Homo sapiens: one gene and its partners. The protein of the gene in region 1 purifies or fractionates together with the protein of each later gene. This does not show direct contact. Each region holds a gene or a part of one and is shown in the gene's direction. Other genes may lie near its edges.

Region 1 (3,917 bases):
TGGGTGTGGTGGCACGCATCCATAGGCCCAGCTATTCAGGAGGTTGAGGCAGGAGAATCACTTGAACCTGGGAGACGGAGGTTGCAAGTGAGCCGAGATCGCACCACTGCATTCCAGCCTGGGTAACAGAGTGAGACTCCGTCTCAAATGAATGAATGAATAAATAAATAATAAATTCTTACTAATTCATGATTTGATTGCAAAATTTTATCTTTCTTTTCTCTGAATCATAGAATCTTTCCTTTCTTAGGTTAAAAATGCTGAATTTCCCAGAGGTGTATTAAATTTAATTGAAAGCCTCATAGAAGGACATTTTTTTAAAGAAGCAATTGAGGAACTTTCCACTTTGCAGGCACATTATATCCCTCCTGTATGCGTTCTTCATGCCCTTCTAGAGAACGTTCTACAGGTAAGAGCAGCCTTAAGGATTTATAATCTTTTTTTCAAAGAATGTTAAAATGTGAACATTTTCTCACTTTTTGTATGTTTACAGTTTATTTTCCCTGTTCAGTGTTTTTTTTTCTTCATTTCACTAATGCAGTACCCATTTATTACTACTGTTCTGTTTTCCAGCTACATACTAGGTACTACTCTTAGTGCTTTAGCTAATGATTTTCTCAGGATTTCTAAGATAATTTTGTTTTGGGGAAAAAGGTTATCTAATTTTTCTCACGGCAGTAAAGTATCAAATATAAAATTCAGATTATGGTGATCTAGAATTACATTTGGTAAATTACTCCATTAGTACATTGATGATTATCATTTTTATTTATAGTATACATAATGAACATACTCTTTGTTTAAAAAGAAATAGAGGCAAGTTCCCTCTCTGTTGTCCAGGCTGGACTGCAGTGGTGTGATCATGGCTCACTGTGGCCTCAACCTCCTGGGCTCAAGTAGTCCCCCTGCTTCAGCCTCCCAAGTAGCTGGGACTGTAGGCGCATGCCACCATGCCTGGCTAATTTTTAAATTTTTTGTAGAGATGGAGTCTTGCTATGTTGCCCATGCTGGGAACATACCCAAACTGTGTAAACCAATAGGAACAAATATTCAAAGATCGCTTTCTAATCATGCCCTTCACCAAGGTGCTAATTTGATAACATAACAGGCATAAGCTTTGTCAGGTATGTTATGTTGGTGATAAGTAAGCATGTTGCATGAATAGTTTGTTACTTTTAGTTCCTTTCAGGTAACATTTGAGACCTCTTAAATCTCACTATAATTGTGAAAAGGAAAATGTGTATTCCATCTAAGGTAGTGTTAATAGAAGGGATTACCCAATGTATAGATAGAGTCATCCCTTGCTGTCACAGGATATTGGTTTCAGGACCTTTGTGGATACTGAAATCTGCACATAATCAAGTCCTGCAGTTGCTTCTTCAGAACCTGCACTTATAGGAAAAGTCAGCCCTCCACATACGAAGGTTTTACATCCTGTGAATACTGTATTTTTAAAGGTTTTTCTTTTAGAGGTAATTGTAAAATTTTCCCTTACTACTAGGGAAAAAAATTTCCTTCACTACTGAAGGCAATAGAAAATAATTAATACAATAACTAATAAGATACAGTCATACATATCATCCTCTTTGAACTACATAATCTCATTCAGCAGCAAGGGCAGGAATTATCTTTATTTTACAGGTGAGGAAATTAAAACTTCTTAGTAGGCCGGGTGCTGTGGCTCACACCTGTAATTCCAGCACTTTCAGAGGCCGAGGCCTCCCAAATACAGAATACTGTATTTAATTGCAGTTGTAGAACCTATGGACGTGAAGGGTAGGCTGCATTTATTGGAAAAAAATTCATGTGTAAGTGGACCCATGCAGTTAAAACCTGTTATTCAGGTATCAGCTGTACATAGAGTGTGCCTGTCTCTCAGTTGCTTTATTTAATTAGCTAAACATGATGCTTCCATCTGCTCTCCTTTGTCTAAACACGTATATTTGGCAAGAAACTTAGGCCAGCGTTAGGCCGGGCGTGGTGGCTCACACCTGTAATCCCAGCACTTTGGGAGGCTGAGGTGGGCAGATCACAAGGTCGGGAGTTCAAGACTAGCCTGGCCAACATAGTGAAATCCCATCTCTACTAAAAATACAAAAATTAGCCAGGCATGGTGGTGGGTGCCTGTAGTCCCAGCTACTTACTCAGGAGGCTGAGGCAGAAAAATCGCTTGAACCCAGGAGGCGGAGGTTGAGGTAAGCCAAGATCGTGCCACTGCACTCCAGCCTGGGTGACAGAGCCAGACTCCGTCTCAAAAAAGAAAGTTAGGCCAGGGTTACTGTTTTGGTTTTAGACTGAATTAGAGAGTCAAACTACTTTTAGCTATAGTGTTTTATTTGTTTGTTTATTTTTAAATAATAGGATAACATAGATACATTTTCTGGTCGATACTTTCATATATTGTCAGCTCTTCTTCACCTGCATCCTCCTTGGAAGTCTCCAGCCATGTCGAGATATTATTTAGAGTTGTTTCAGTGTCCAACTTGTATGAAAGGAGCATGGTCTTTAGTAGAAGTCCTTATCAGGTAAGGAATTTCACATTTGACGATGCTACATTTCATTGAGTAGTTGTTATGCTAATTATTTTTTTAAGATACTGATGAAAGAAGTATCTTTCTACTTTTGGAAAAGTTTTGTTGCAAATACAAATATGTATTGTATTTATTGCAAAACTTATGAAAAGGCAAATCTATATTGGTCATGTTTTTCAGTCTGTTTCCTAAAAAAATAAAAAATGAATGCATGAAATGGACTCACTAGAAAGCCAAATCATTATTATTTTTAACAAAATAGAAATTTGTGTATTGTTTTTTAAATGAAGAAAATTAATTTATGGAATATGCATATCATCAGTTTTTGTCACCAAAAGTGTAGACATTTGTAACTATAGTATCTATTTTAGGGCTTCAGTTATATTTTTTTCAGCTAGAAATTTGAATTTTAAAACAGAACTTAATATTTCCTAAATATGTCATCTCTTTTATGCTTCTGCACATGCTGTCACTGCCTAGACCTTCCTCTGTCTTTCAGTTGTTAGTGTCTCCAGAAATTCTGTTTCACCTTCTTTCTCCCTAACAGAAAATGTTTTCCCCTTGCTATTCAAATAACTGTATTTGATAACCCTTATTCTTCTGGGAAGATCTTTTCTTTTTTTGAGACATGAGTCTCGCTCTGTCACCCAGGCTGGAGTGCAGTGGCCTGATCTTGGCTCACTGTAACCTCTACCTCCCAGGCTCAAGCAATTCTTATGCCTTAGCCTTCCAAGTAGCTAGAGTTACAGGCATGTGCCTCCACGTCCAGCTAATTTTTGTATTTTTTCATTTTTAGTAGAGATGGGCTTTTACCATGTTGGCCAGGCTGGTCTCGAATTGCTGGCCTCAAGTGATCTGCCTGACTTGGGCTCCCAAAGTCCTGGGATTATAGGAGTGGACCATCACGCCTGGCTGGGAAGATCTTTTTTTTTTTTTTTTTTTTTTTAATTTAAGTGTCCAGTTTCAGGAGGTTCATAGTGGAGAAAGGACACCTGACTAGCCATGCAAAGGCTAGACCTCTGGTTAGCTCTTTGAGATCATAAAGATTCACATACCATCTTGGTTGTGATATATTTAAAGTGAGCTAATCAGTTAACCAGCATGCATTTATTCATTCTTTTAACAAATTCTTGAGTACTTACGGAGAGCCAGACACTGTACTACATTTTAGGGATTAAAAAGATGATTTAAATAACAGTTCCTGCACTTTGAAAGTGACTGAGATGTAAACAATACCGCACAAAAGTACAAGCCCAACAGTACAAGCCCAGCATAGGTATATGATGTGAGAAAATAGAGTTTATGTGGCTGACATCCTTCATAATTTCCAAATCTATTCCTTTCTTCACTGTCAATTGTCTTTATTTTAAAGTTCCTGTTTCTTCT
Region 2 (3,917 bases), on another chromosome or scaffold:
GGCCCCTCCTCTGTGAACTTAGCCACTCTGAACCTCACCCACAGAATTTCACTAGGTCCTCCTTGTAGCCCTGTGAGGTGAATACTAATATTGTACCCATTTTAGACATTGGGAAACTGAGGCTCAGGTTGCTTAAAAGACCCGCCCCAGTGAGAAGACACCAGGGGAAAGGTGCACTTTTGTCACACGCTCTGAGCACAGACCTTCATGGAAATTAGCAGAGCCAGGCTTTGCATCTCAATAGAAAACCATGCAATCTCTGCAGCTGCAAGGACCCCAGTGAAAAGCAGGCAAGCCTCCACTCCTGGCCTCTCACCTCAGCCCCAGGAAGTGACAAAGGCCTCTGAGCTCAAGGCAGCCTCAGAGTAGAAAAGGGATTCTCTGAAGCAGGCGTAACTGCTTTATTGAGGCTGGGCACAGTGGCTCACGCCTGTAATCCCGGCACTTTGGGAGGCAGAGGCCGGCGGATCACTTCAGGTTAGGAATTCGAGACCAGCCTGGCCAACATGGTGAAACCTCGTCTCTACTAAAAATACAAAAATTGGCCAGGCGCGGTGGCTCATGCCTGTAATCCCAGCACTTTGGGAGGCTGAGGTGGGTGGATCACTTGAGGTCAGGAGTTTGAGACCAGCCTGGCCAACATGGTGAAACCCTGCCTCTACTAAAAATTAAAAAAAAAAATTAGCCAGGTATGGTGGCACGCGCCTATAGTCCCAGCTACTTGGGAGGCTGAGGCATGAGAATCACTTGAGCCCAGGAGATGGAAGTTGCAGTGAGCTGAGACTGTGCCACTGCACTCCAGCCTGGGTGACAGAGCAAGATTTTGCCTCTAAATAAATAAATAGCCAGGCGCAGTGACTCACGCCTGTAATCCTAGCACTTTGGGAGGCCAAGGCAGGCAGATTGCCTGAGCTCAGGAGTTCAAGACCAGCCTGGGAAAGAAACATGGCAAAACCCCGTCTCTACTAAAAACACAAAAAATTAGCCAGGCGTGGTGCTGTACGCCTGTAATCTTAGCTACTTGGGAGGCTGAGGCAGGAGAATCACTTGAACCCGGGAGGCGGAGGTTGCACTGAGCCGAGATTGTGCCACTGCAGCCCAGCCTGAATGACAGAGCAAGACTCTGTCTCTAAATAAATAAATAAATAAATAAATAAACATCTTTATTGAGATACAATTGACAGGTAGTAAGTGGTGCATATTTGAAGTCCACAATTTGGCAAGTTTTGGCTTATACACATATACACCTGTGGATTCCTCACCACAGTAACGGAAGTATTCATCACCCCCGGAAGCTTCATCCTGCCCCGTGTCATCCTCTGCCCTTCCCTACCTCCTCTCAACTCTCATGGGCCCTCTCTCCCTGCAGCGGCTGCAGAGCGGCACCACAGGTGTGTGTGCGCTCATTGCAGGAGCGACCCTGCACGTCGCCTGGCTCGGGGATTCCCAGGTCATTTTGGTACAGCAGGGACAGGTGGTGAAGCTGATGGAGCCACACAGACCAGAACGGCAGGTAAGGGGATCCCTGCGCCCAGGCCCAGGATATTCCTGGCCTCCATCATGCTGGGCCCATAGGGGAACCCCACCCAGCCTGGGAACTTCAGGTAGTAGTAATCCTGGCACCTTTCAAGAGGGAGGGCTCCCTGCCTGATTTGAGTGGCCGGGGGTCCCACGTGAGCCCTTCCTGAGAGCTCTGTGGGTCACAGCTATATGGAGCCCAGAGCTCCGGGGGAGAGCAGAGCCCTCTGCACTGACAGGCATCCCAGTGCAGTCAGTGCAGCCCAGTGCAGACCAGAGCCCATCATACACACGGACAAGGAGGCCACAGGCTGTGGGTGAGGAAGGCCTCAGGGAGGTGATGCTGCCCCGAGGCTGGAGGGAACCTGGCTTGGGGCTGTACTGACTAGAGGCTGCCTGGGACCCTGGCACTCAGGTCATCACCTGGACATGAGGATGACAGTCCCACTCAGACCTCTTCTCAGAAGACTGTCTCATCCATGTGTCTCCTGAGGTTGGATTGCGAGCATTCAGATATCATGGAATGACTGTTTATCCCTCAAACCCCACTTTTCCCACGTGCTGTTCTCCACCAGCTATGTTTGATTAACCATGCACATGGTGGATAATTCTACGTCAGCACATAGGAGCACCCATCCTTTCTTGGGGCTGCGGACATTGCATTCATCATGCAGTCCCTTGTGGGTGAGCATGAAGATCTTTTCAGTCTTTCGGTGCTAAAAACAATGCATCTCTACCTACTTTGTGCAGCATTAATTGCTCAGAGTCAAGTGTACCTATATCTGTAGGACACATCCCCAGAAGTGGGATGGCTAGGTTGGAACTGATGCACGTACAGTCTGGGTAGATTTGCCAAGCTTCCCACCTCAGGCCATGCCAGCCTGGGCTGGCACTACATTCCCAAGAAGGTCCATTTCCCCACAGTCTCACCAGGCTGCAGGATTCTTCCTGTCAGGTAAGAAGCCTGTCTTGGGGCAATTGTTAAGTTTGCTTTTCTGTTACAGAGTGAGTTTGAGCGTGTTTTCAAAAGCTGAAGATCATTTACACAGCCTTTCCTGCAAACACTGTTTTTTTCCTTTGCCTGTTTTTCTTATCAGTTTATAGGTTCCTTGTATATGTGAAGGAGGTTGGTTCCTTGTCTGTGATGATTTGCAAATGTTTTTCCATGCATCTTTTATTTTTGTTTATGGGCTTTTGCCACATGGAGGCTTTGTGTTTTTCTGTAGTTGAGTAGTCTTTTTGTGGCTTCTGGTTTGGAAAGCACATAGAGACACCAGGACTTGATGATTGTAACAGTCAGGGGCAGCTACATTCCTTGGCCTTTCACTGCGGCTCACGGTCTGGTATGGGCCCCCTGTACGTCCTCTCCCCATTGTACAGAGGAGAAAACTGAGGCTCAGTCACTTGCCCAGAGCACACCGCCAAAGTCACAGATAGTCTCTGCCACTCCCCTGCCTCCACCACCGTGGGGGAATTTGGCACCTGCTCCCTAGTGGGCTCTCCTCCCCAGGATATGCAGTCAGATGAAATGTGGCCAAGTCAGGATTCGTGCTGGGCCCACTCCCACCTGCTGCCTGCACACCTACAGGCTCAGCATTCAGCACCCCATTAAAGCCCAGTGGGGGCTCTGTTCAAACACTGCCTGAGTCCTGCAGTATGGCGTCGTGGCAGAGCATGGACAGATGGCCTTGCCTGGTCCCGGCTCCACCGCTTCCAAGTCCATCACACAGGGGTCCCTGGAGGTTTGGGGTAAGGATTGAGTGTCCCAGTGCATGTGGAGCACAGAGATCAGAGCTTGCACAAGAGAAGCACACACAGGTGTCTGTGTTCTTGGCTGCAGCCCGCATGGGCCAAGGAGTTCAGATCCAGTGCCCCCCACCTCCCCTTTCCTGCCGCCATGCTCTGTAGGCTTGGCCCCTCCTGCTGTGATCCTGATCACAGCCTTCCACCCTAGAGAATTAATCACAGATCCAGGCCAAGGTTCTCCCACAAAAACAAGCATCATGTCGGTTACAAGAGCAAGAAACTGGCCTCAACTTGGCGAGCTTCAACGGGGGTCCAGCAGCGGCCCAGAGCAGCTTCCAGGAGTACGTGGGGGGAGTGCGTGGTGCTCTGCCTTGTTCTGCGGCTGTCTGAACAGTCTCCTGCCTCTGCACTCAGTTCAGCCTCCAAACACTGAGTGCCCACTCTGCACAAGATACTTTGTTGAGGCAGTGAGATAACACAGGACCCACTTCCTGCCTCTAAGTCTAATGGGGGAGCAGGAGGAGGGCAAGGACCTGGCAGGATGAGGCAGAGAGATGAATGGAATGGAGCCGCATCTCAGGCAGTTGCAATTCCTGCAGGCCAGGGGAGAGACCAGGAGGAAAGGGCAGGTTATGCCAGAATCAGGGCCAGGT
Region 3 (4,664 bases), on another chromosome or scaffold:
ACACCTGTAATCTCAACACTTTGGAGGCCAAGGCGGGGCAAAGCGCCTGACCTCGGGCATTGGAGACCAGCCTGGGCAACATGGTGAAACCCCATCTCTACCAAAAATACAAAAAATTAGCTGGGCATGGTGGTGTGCTCCTGTGGTCCCAGCTACTTGGGAGGCTGAGGTGGAAGGATCACTTGAGCCTGGGAGGTAGAGGCTGCAGTGAGCCGAGGTGGTGCCACACTGCACTCCAGCCTGGGCAACACAGCCAGACCCCATCTCAAAAAAAAAAATAGCAACAACGACAAAGAACCCATCCAACACTTAAGTTTGTACTTCACAAGGACAAGGAGAATGCAGTTCAACAAGCACAGCTCAGCCCATGCTGTGTTTCTGGGGATGGAGGACACATCATGAAGTCTCGGCATGGTCCTCGCCCAGCAGAACTAATGGGTGGGGCAGACACATGGAACACAGAATGCCAGGTGTCTTGTCTCTAGGATCAAGCAGTAGCAATGTGAGGTGCAGCCACTATGGGATTCAAAGTGGAAAGACTCAGAAACCCTGAAGAAATGGGAAGAGGGCATGCCACTGGAGCTGGAAGGTTTCAGGACAGCAACAGTCAAAAAGGAAAGATGAGCCTGTAGTCCCAGCTACTCAGGGGGCTGGGGTGGGAGGATCACTGGAGCTCAGGAGTCCCAAGGCCAGCCTGAGCAAAACAGCGAGACTCCAGTCTTTTTTATTTTATTTTATTTTTTAAAGAAACAAAAAGGAAGGGGACACACATGTGTTAGGGACAGAAAAGAGAAAACCGCCTCTACCCAAGCATTCACCCACATCACCCACACCTCCCTGCAGAGCACCCAGAGCTGGGGGTGAAAGAAATGAGGTCCAAATGAGACAGCACAGGAGCTGCCTCCAGGGCTTAAACAGACCAGCATTCCAGGCCGAGGGACCGCAAGTGCAAGGGCGTGAAAGCACAGAGCGCAGGGGTTGAATGACTTCAAGCCTGTGAAGCTGCAGCTGCAGGTGTATGGGAAAGGCAGGGCAGGGGGCTGTGCGGAGGCTGGGAGGAGCCAGCACCCAAGGGCTGGTCAACCAAGCTGGGGGTTGAATTTCCATCCAGCAATGCAGGCCATGGGAGGCTGCAGCAGTGACGCTGTCAGATCCCCTTTGTGAGAATAATAATTTTTATAACAACGTGGCTGGAGGACTGATCAGGAGAGAGACTGGTGTGAATTGAAGGCTGTTGCAATGGCTCCAAGAAGAGATGAGGCTGTGTGGTGAGTTTAGCCGCTGGATGAAAGGCCGGAAGAATGAGGTCAGCAGCGCACTGACACCGACACCCAAAGCTTCGGCTGCTGCCGCTCTCATGGAAATCTCCTGGGGGAAGGGAGAGGGTCCTTCCTCGGTGAAAACTGGGGCTGCTCTAGCGAGTTCCTCAGAAGCGGGCAGGTCGCTAGTTCCTCTTCCTTTTCAGCCCTCAGTGCCCATTTTGCCAATAAAAAGTCCCAAGGTGACAGTACAAGAGACGCCTTTAGTGAAGGCAAAGGAAGGGACACTCCCCTCCTTTGCTGCCTACTCTCGCCCTCACTTCTTGAAATCTTTGGTCTCCCTTCACCCACTCTGTCACTCTCACAAGACAACCATTTCCAAGGACTATTTCCAAGCCCTTTTCCTCATCCCCAAACCCGCAGTTTTCAGCTGCCCCCAGTTGCCTGGCCAGGCTGCCTCGACGGCCCTATTCACGGGCCCCAGCCTCCTCGCCGGGCTGGAAGGCGACAACCGCGAAAAGGAGGGTGACTCTCCTCGGCGGGGGCTTCGGGTGACATCACATCCTCCAAATGCGAAATCAGGCTCCGGGCCGGCCGAAGGGCGCAACTTTCCCCCCTCGGCGCCCCACCGGCTCCCGCGCGCCTCCCCTCGCGCCCGAGCTTCGAGCCAAGCAGCGTCCTGGGGAGCGCGTCATGGCCTTACCAGTGACCGCCTTGCTCCTGCCGCTGGCCTTGCTGCTCCGTGAGTTTGAGACGCCCGGGAAGGCAGGGGATGGGGCGGGCGGGGGGCGGGGGGCGCGGGACTGCGGGCTCAGCCTCGCTGCTTGCCGCCTGCAGACGCCGCCAGGCCGAGCCAGTTCCGGGTGTCGCCGCTGGATCGGACCTGGAACCTGGGCGAGACAGTGGAGCTGAAGTGCCAGGTGCTGCTGTCCAACCCGACGTCGGGCTGCTCGTGGCTCTTCCAGCCGCGCGGCGCCGCCGCCAGTCCCACCTTCCTCCTATACCTCTCCCAAAACAAGCCCAAGGCGGCCGAGGGGCTGGACACCCAGCGGTTCTCGGGCAAGAGGTTGGGGGACACCTTCGTCCTCACCCTGAGCGACTTCCGCCGAGAGAACGAGGGCTACTATTTCTGCTCGGCCCTGAGCAACTCCATCATGTACTTCAGCCACTTCGTGCCGGTCTTCCTGCCAGGTCCGCGCGCCGGGTTGCGGCACCTCTCCGCGTGGGGCTTGGGGTTCACCTCAACCTGTTTTCCACACCTGGGCCCTGCTTTCAAGCCTCTTAGCGCACCTGGAAGCGACTTAGATACTGTTCCCATTTCACAGACACAGCAAACTGAGGCTAACGCGAGGCTGAGTAGGGACTGGGGATGGCTTTTTACGTCCGGCCGATCTGGACTCGAGTTCGGATTCTTGTGTGATTCTGGGCAAATGACTTAAATTATCTGCGCCTCCGTTTGCTCGTGGGTAAAATGCGGACAGCAATCAACCCGCGCTCCAGGGTTGCTGGTTCAGCCCGGGAGAGAGGCCAGGTGCAGGGGAGCTGGCTCCTGCGCTCCGGCTCTGGGCGCCGGGTGCGCTGGGCTGAGCCGAGGCCCGAGCACAGGGGTCCGCGCGCATCCCGGGGTCCCCATCCTGTCTCCTCTGCTATCCCTTCTCCCAGGAAAACCGGGGGGAGGCGTCCCCGTGGGGAAAGGTGCGCGAGGCCGGGGCTGGGGCGCCTCCATAACCCCAGCCTGGCCCCCAACCACGCTCTGTTGCTCTTGCAGCGAAGCCCACCACGACGCCAGCGCCGCGACCACCAACACCGGCGCCCACCATCGCGTCGCAGCCCCTGTCCCTGCGCCCAGAGGCGTGCCGGCCAGCGGCGGGGGGCGCAGGTGAGGCGTGCGGGGGCCCGGGGCGGGGGCGGCACGCACCGCGGGGAGAGCCCATGCCAGGGACAGCCCTGATACTGTAGGTAGAGTCAAGGGCTGTCCAAGTGGTGGGAAACCGAGATCTGAGGCGGAGAGACGTTCCCGGGACGGTGGGGCGGTTGGGAGGTCCCGGGCCCTCTCCTAAATGTCGGCGTCTTTGGTGTCGTCAGTGCACACGAGGGGGCTGGACTTCGCCTGTGATATCTACATCTGGGCGCCCTTGGCCGGGACTTGTGGGGTCCTTCTCCTGTCACTGGTTATCACCCTTTACTGCAACCACAGTAAGTCCCGAGGAATCGCGGCGGGAAGGAGTCGGCCCCGCTCCTGCCCTTGGCTCTGCTAGCTCCAGGCGGACCTTGCGAGGGGGGAGCTTGGGGTTGAGTTTTCTGGGACTCCCGAGCTGCCCCGCAGGTACAGGCACTTCTTTCTGGGAGATAGAATGCGAGAAAGCCCTTCCCGCTCCTTGCGCTCTCGGAGAGGTTTTGGGAGACAAAGCCGCGTTCCCAGAGCCGCTGCAGCGGGTGTGTTCCGTCGACGAAGCCCGCAGCGCGCGCGCACATGTCTGGACACATGACAAACGCCCGCCGGGAGGGGGCCGCTGTGGCCGAGTCAAGTGCCCAGGAGGGTTAGTCAAAACCACCATCAGTTTGAGGTTCGTCCTTGGCCCTCTTCGGCGAACCGCCCACCCTGCTTTGGGTCCCATGCAAGAGAGGTGCCGGATCAGGTCTGCAGGCTCCCCGCTTTCGCCCGCGTCTGTAGTTGCAATTTTTTTTAATTGATGCTTGAGACGAAGGATGGATAAGAAGCCCTTACCCGGCTCTCAAGAGTTATAATCCTCAAAGAAATAGGGGAAAGGAAGGAGAATTCGTAGAGGCAATTCCCTATTTGCCTCATCCAATTTCAGCCCATGATCGTTCTGAAATGATTTTTTGTAAAACCAAAAAACAGCAGCAACAACAACAGCAACAACAAAAAATACACTGTCTTTGGGGACTATTGATGGATAGGGGCACTCACTTTTTCCCTTCTTTTTCCTTATCCAGGGAACCGAAGACGTGTTTGCAAATGTCCCCGGTGAGTCTCTTTTGAACTCAGCCTGCTCACCTTGGCCAGCCCTGGGGTGGGGTCCTGGTTTCCCCAGCAGCAAATAGTGGGAACTTTTCCCAGAGAGAGGTCATGGCCGTGAAATCCTGGGGCAGGGAGTCAGCCAGTTCCTGAGCAAAGAGAGGCCAAGGCTGGCATCTGGCCTGTGTCTTTGAGAAAAAGGAGGCCCGGGTTAGGCGGGTGCCAACAGCAGTGTGACTCCAGTAAATCTCCATCTTATTTGACCTGGCACTTCCAAAAAAAAAAAAAAAAAACCTGAGGGATTCCCCCAATTTATCCTAGCTCCTCGTAGGACCTGACCTCCTCTTTATTCTGATTATTCCATCTGGGTTTTGTTGTTTTCTTAAGAAAACAATTTTTTTTCCTACTTGGCTGGTCTAGTTTTT
Region 4 (3,917 bases), on another chromosome or scaffold:
ACAAAGAAGGCAGAAAGGCTGTCACAAACCTTATCAAGAGTCTTACTCTGATGTCAGCTTGTATATCACTGATGTCTGGTCTGAATTTGACTATACCATGCAAACTACTTTTAGTTAGTAAAGTTAGTTTGTTTAACAAACAACAGGCAAAAAAAATAAATGAAAGCATACTTTTCATTAGGTTGGGTTCAATATACGGAGAGTGCCCTGTGCCAAAGCCACGAGTTGATCGTCCAAGAAAAGTTCCTGTGATACAAGAGGAGAGGGCAATGCCTGCCCAGGTTTGTTTTAAAATGTTGCTTTTAAAAAAACACATTAAAGTTAAAATAGCTGTTAAAATAATGTGCATGCAATTTGGCCATTTTTTCTAAGTGTGCGGGTCTGGAGCCAGGTTTTGTCACTTAAATAATCATTTTATTTAAGCCTTTAAGCATTTTATTGGATTGGCTGCTTGTCTTTGTTTTAACTCATTTCTCTAGTTTTGATCAGTTCTCCGAAGCCAGGGTCAACCTCAGCACTGTCAACATTTACGGCTGGATAATGTTGGTTTGGGGAGCTGTCCTGCGCATTGTAGGATGCTTAGCGGCATCCCCAGCCTCTACCTGTTATATGCTAATAGCCCCCCCGACCCCTGAGTTGTGACAACCAAAAATGTCTACATGTGACAACAAATGTTCCCTGGGGAGGTGGGGGGAAAGTCACACCCACTCGAGAACCACTGTTTCTAAACCGCCCTTTTGTATTTTGCTATTTTATGTTCAACCTGAAAATGGTTAATCTGGTAATGTTACTATTCTATTAAGAAATTGATATGAAAATGTTACTGAGGCCAGGCACAGTGGCTTACGCCTGTAATCCCAGCACTTTGGGAGGCCGAGGCGGGCAGATCACAAGGTCAGGAGTTCGAGACCAGCCCGGCCAATACGGGGAAACCCCGTCTCTACTAAAAATACAGAAATTAGCTAGGTATGGTGGCAGGTGCCTGTAGTCCGGGCTATTCGGGAGGCTGACGCAGGAGAATTAGGAATCTAGGAGGCAGAGGTTGCACTGAGCCGAGATCATGCCACTGTACTCCAGCCTGGGCGACAGAGCGAGAGTCCGTCTCAAAAAAAACAAAGGTTGCCCGAGTGTGGTGGCTTACGCCTGTAATCCCAGCACTTTGGGAGGCCAAGGCGGGCAGATCCACCTGAGGTCAGGAGTTAGAAACCAGCCTGGCCAACATGGTGAAACCCTGTCTCTACTAAAAAGTACAAAAAATTAGCCAGATGTGGTGGTGGGTGCCTCTAATCCCAGCTACTCTGGAGGCTGAGGTAGGAGAATTGCTTGAACCTGGGAAGCGGAGGTTGCAGTGAGCCGAGATGGCACCACTGCACTCCAGCCTGGGCCACAGAGCAAGACTCCATCTCAAAAAAAAAAAAAAAAAGTTACTGAAACCAGAAAATCTGTTTTTTTTTAAACCATAATTTTTTTTGAGACAGAGTCTTGCCCTATCACCCGGGCTGGAGTGCAGTGGCGCGATCTCGGCTCACTGCAACCTCCGCCTGCTGGGTTCAAGCCATTCTCCTGCCTCAGCCTCCCAAGTAGCTGGGATTACAGGCAGGCACCACCATGCCCGGCTAATTTTGGTGTTTTTTAATAGAGACGGTTTCACCATAATGGCCAGGCTGGTCTCGAACTCCTGACCTTGTGATCCACCTGCCTCAGCCTCCTACAGCGCAGGGATTACAGGCGCGATGTCGGCTCACTGCAAGCTCCGCCTCCCGGGTTCATGCCATTCTCCTGCCTCAGCCTCCTGAGTAGCTGGGAGTACAGGCGCCTGTCACCACACCTGGCTAAGTTTTTGTATTTTTAGTAGAGATGGGGTTTCACCGTGTTAGCCAGGATGGTCAGCAAGACCCCATATCTAAAAAAATTTTTTTTAATTAGCCAGGTGTCTTAGACAAGGTAGAATGAATTAAAAAAAAAAAAATTAGCCAGGTGTAGTGGTGCACGCTTCTAGTGCCAGCTACTCAAGAAGCTGAGGTGGTAGGATCCCTTGAGCACAGGAGTCTGAGGTTACAGTGAGCCGAGATCATGCAACTGCACTCTAGCCTGGGTGGCAAAGCAAGACCCTGTCTCAAAAAAAAAAAAGAGTTCGGGTGTGCAAGAGAGAAGAAAAGGAGTTTGGGTGTGCAAGAGAGAAGAAAACGTTAATAGGCCAGTAAGTAGGTCTGTCAGCTTGATAATGACTTTTTTCAGTTAAGAAGAATGGAAGAATCTCATCAAGAAGCAACAGAGAAAGAAGTAGAAAGAATCTTGGGATTGTTGCAGACATATTTTCGAGAAGATCGTAAGTGTAACACCATTCAAAGTGGAGCAATTTGTATTTATCTGTTCACTGAGGTTACTTGTATTTAAAAGGCAATTTCAGCTGTATGTAATATTTGAATAAATACATATGCATTTTATGAGGATTCTTCTCCCCTTTAGAAATTTCATGTGAAAACTTTGAAGTTAACGTTTTCATTTTTATCTTTAAAAGATGGGGATTTTTTTTGTTACAAAATGAAATATGCCATTCAAGTGAGAAATGTCAAAAGTAGCTGTTCCACCTCCCCTCATTATAAAATGTAATGTGTATATTTTCAGATTATTTTATCAGTTTTATACACACCTACCTAAATAGTTTGTTTTGGCCGGGCGTGGTGGCTCACACCTGTAATCCCAGCACTTTGGGAGGCTGAGGTTGGGAGTTCGATACCCGCCTGACCAACATGGAGAAACCTCATCTCTACTAAAAATACAAAATTAACCGGGTGTGGTAGTGCATTCCTGTAATCCCAGCTACTTGGGAGGCTGAGGCAGGAGAATCGCTTGAACCCGGGAGACAGAGGTTGCGGTGAGCCAAGATCACGCCATTGCACTCTAGCCTGGGCAACAAGAGCGAAACTACATCTGAAAAAAAAAAGTTTGTTTTTTTCTTTTTTTCCAAGCTAATCATAATATGCACATTCTTCTGCTACGTGACTTTTCCATGTGGACATTCTTCCACATCATTTCATATAGATCTCCCTTGTTTTGTTCACTGATTCCCATTATATGGCTGTACTGTAAATATATTTAACAGATCCTCCATTAATGGATGATTAAGTTCCTTTTTTTTTTTTTTGAGACAGAGTCTCGCTCTGTCGCCCAGGCTGGAGTGCAGTGGCGCGATCTTGGCTCACTGCAACCTCTCCCTCCTGGGTTCACGCCATTCTCCTGCCTCAGCCTCCCAAGTAGCTGGGACTACAGGCACCCGCCACCACGCCTGGCTAATTCTTTTGTACTTTTAGTAGAACCTGGGTTTCACCGTGTTAGCCAGGATGGTCTTGATCTCCTGACCTTGTGATCCACCCACCTCGGCCTCCCAAAGTGCTGGGATTACAGGCATGAGCCACCGCGCCCGGCCAAGTTCCTATTTTTTTTTTTTTTTTTTAGGAGACAGTCTCACTCTTTCGCCCAGACTGGAATGCAGTGGCACCATCTCAACTCACTGCAACCTCCACCTCCTGGATTCAAGCAATTCTCCTGCCTCAGCCTCCTGAGTAGCTGGGATTACAGGCGCACGCGCCACCACATCTGGCTAATTTTTTTTCTGTATTTTTAGTAGAGACATTGTTTCGCCATGTTGGCCAAGCTAGTCTTGAACCCCTGACCTCAGGTGATCTGCCAGCATCGGCCTCCCAAAGTGCTGGGATTACAGGTGTGAGTGCCATGCCCAGCTGGATGATTAAGTTCTTTATAGCATTTTACTCTTGTATAAATTGCTGAAGTAAAAAATCTTAGTATGTAATTTTGTGCAGTTACACTTGTATTTCTGTAGCACAGCTTCTTAGAGGTGGTTTCCAGGTCAGTGGGCATACATGTTTTTAGTAGAGATGCCAAATTGGCCTCCA

What was found.
Region 2: the proteins of SLF1 (region 1) and PPM1F purify together in Homo sapiens (affinity purification with mass spectrometry; one large-scale study listed by BioGRID and IntAct). This does not show direct contact.
Region 3: the proteins of SLF1 (region 1) and CD8A purify together in Homo sapiens (affinity purification with mass spectrometry; one large-scale study listed by BioGRID and IntAct). This does not show direct contact.
Region 4: the proteins of SLF1 (region 1) and NSMCE4A purify together in Homo sapiens (affinity purification with mass spectrometry; one large-scale study listed by BioGRID and IntAct). This does not show direct contact.

The regions. Positions count from the first base shown.
Region 1 is NC_000005.10:94,663,500-94,667,416, forward strand, and holds part of SLF1 (SMC5-SMC6 complex localization factor protein 1), read left to right. Parts: intron 1-250; coding exon 251-409; intron 410-2,361; coding exon 2,362-2,525; intron 2,526-3,917. UniProt on the Homo sapiens protein: Plays a role in the DNA damage response (DDR) pathway by regulating postreplication repair of UV-damaged DNA and genomic stability maintenance.
Region 2 is NC_000022.11:21,928,744-21,932,660, reverse strand, and holds part of PPM1F (protein phosphatase 1F), read left to right. Parts: intron 1-1,369; coding exon 1,370-1,513; intron 1,514-3,917. UniProt on the Homo sapiens protein: Dephosphorylates and concomitantly deactivates CaM-kinase II activated upon autophosphorylation, and CaM-kinases IV and I activated upon phosphorylation by CaM-kinase kinase. Promotes apoptosis.
Region 3 is NC_000002.12:86,788,114-86,792,777, reverse strand, and holds the start of CD8A (T-cell surface glycoprotein CD8 alpha chain isoform 1 precursor), read left to right. Parts: upstream 1-1,864; 5' UTR 1,865-1,952; coding exon 1,953-2,001; intron 2,002-2,096; coding exon 2,097-2,450; intron 2,451-3,027; coding exon 3,028-3,138; intron 3,139-3,344; coding exon 3,345-3,455; intron 3,456-4,217; coding exon 4,218-4,248; intron 4,249-4,664. UniProt on the Homo sapiens protein: Integral membrane glycoprotein that plays an essential role in the immune response and serves multiple functions in responses against both external and internal offenses. In T-cells, functions primarily as a coreceptor for MHC class I molecule:peptide complex.
Region 4 is NC_000010.11:121,961,650-121,965,566, reverse strand, and holds part of NSMCE4A (non-structural maintenance of chromosomes element 4 homolog A), read left to right. Parts: intron 1-181; coding exon 182-281; intron 282-2,238; coding exon 2,239-2,329; intron 2,330-3,459; coding exon of another isoform or gene 3,460-3,566; exon of another isoform or gene 3,567-3,814; intron 3,815-3,917. UniProt on the Homo sapiens protein: Component of the SMC5-SMC6 complex, a complex involved in DNA double-strand breaks by homologous recombination. The complex may promote sister chromatid homologous recombination by recruiting the SMC1-SMC3 cohesin complex to double-strand breaks.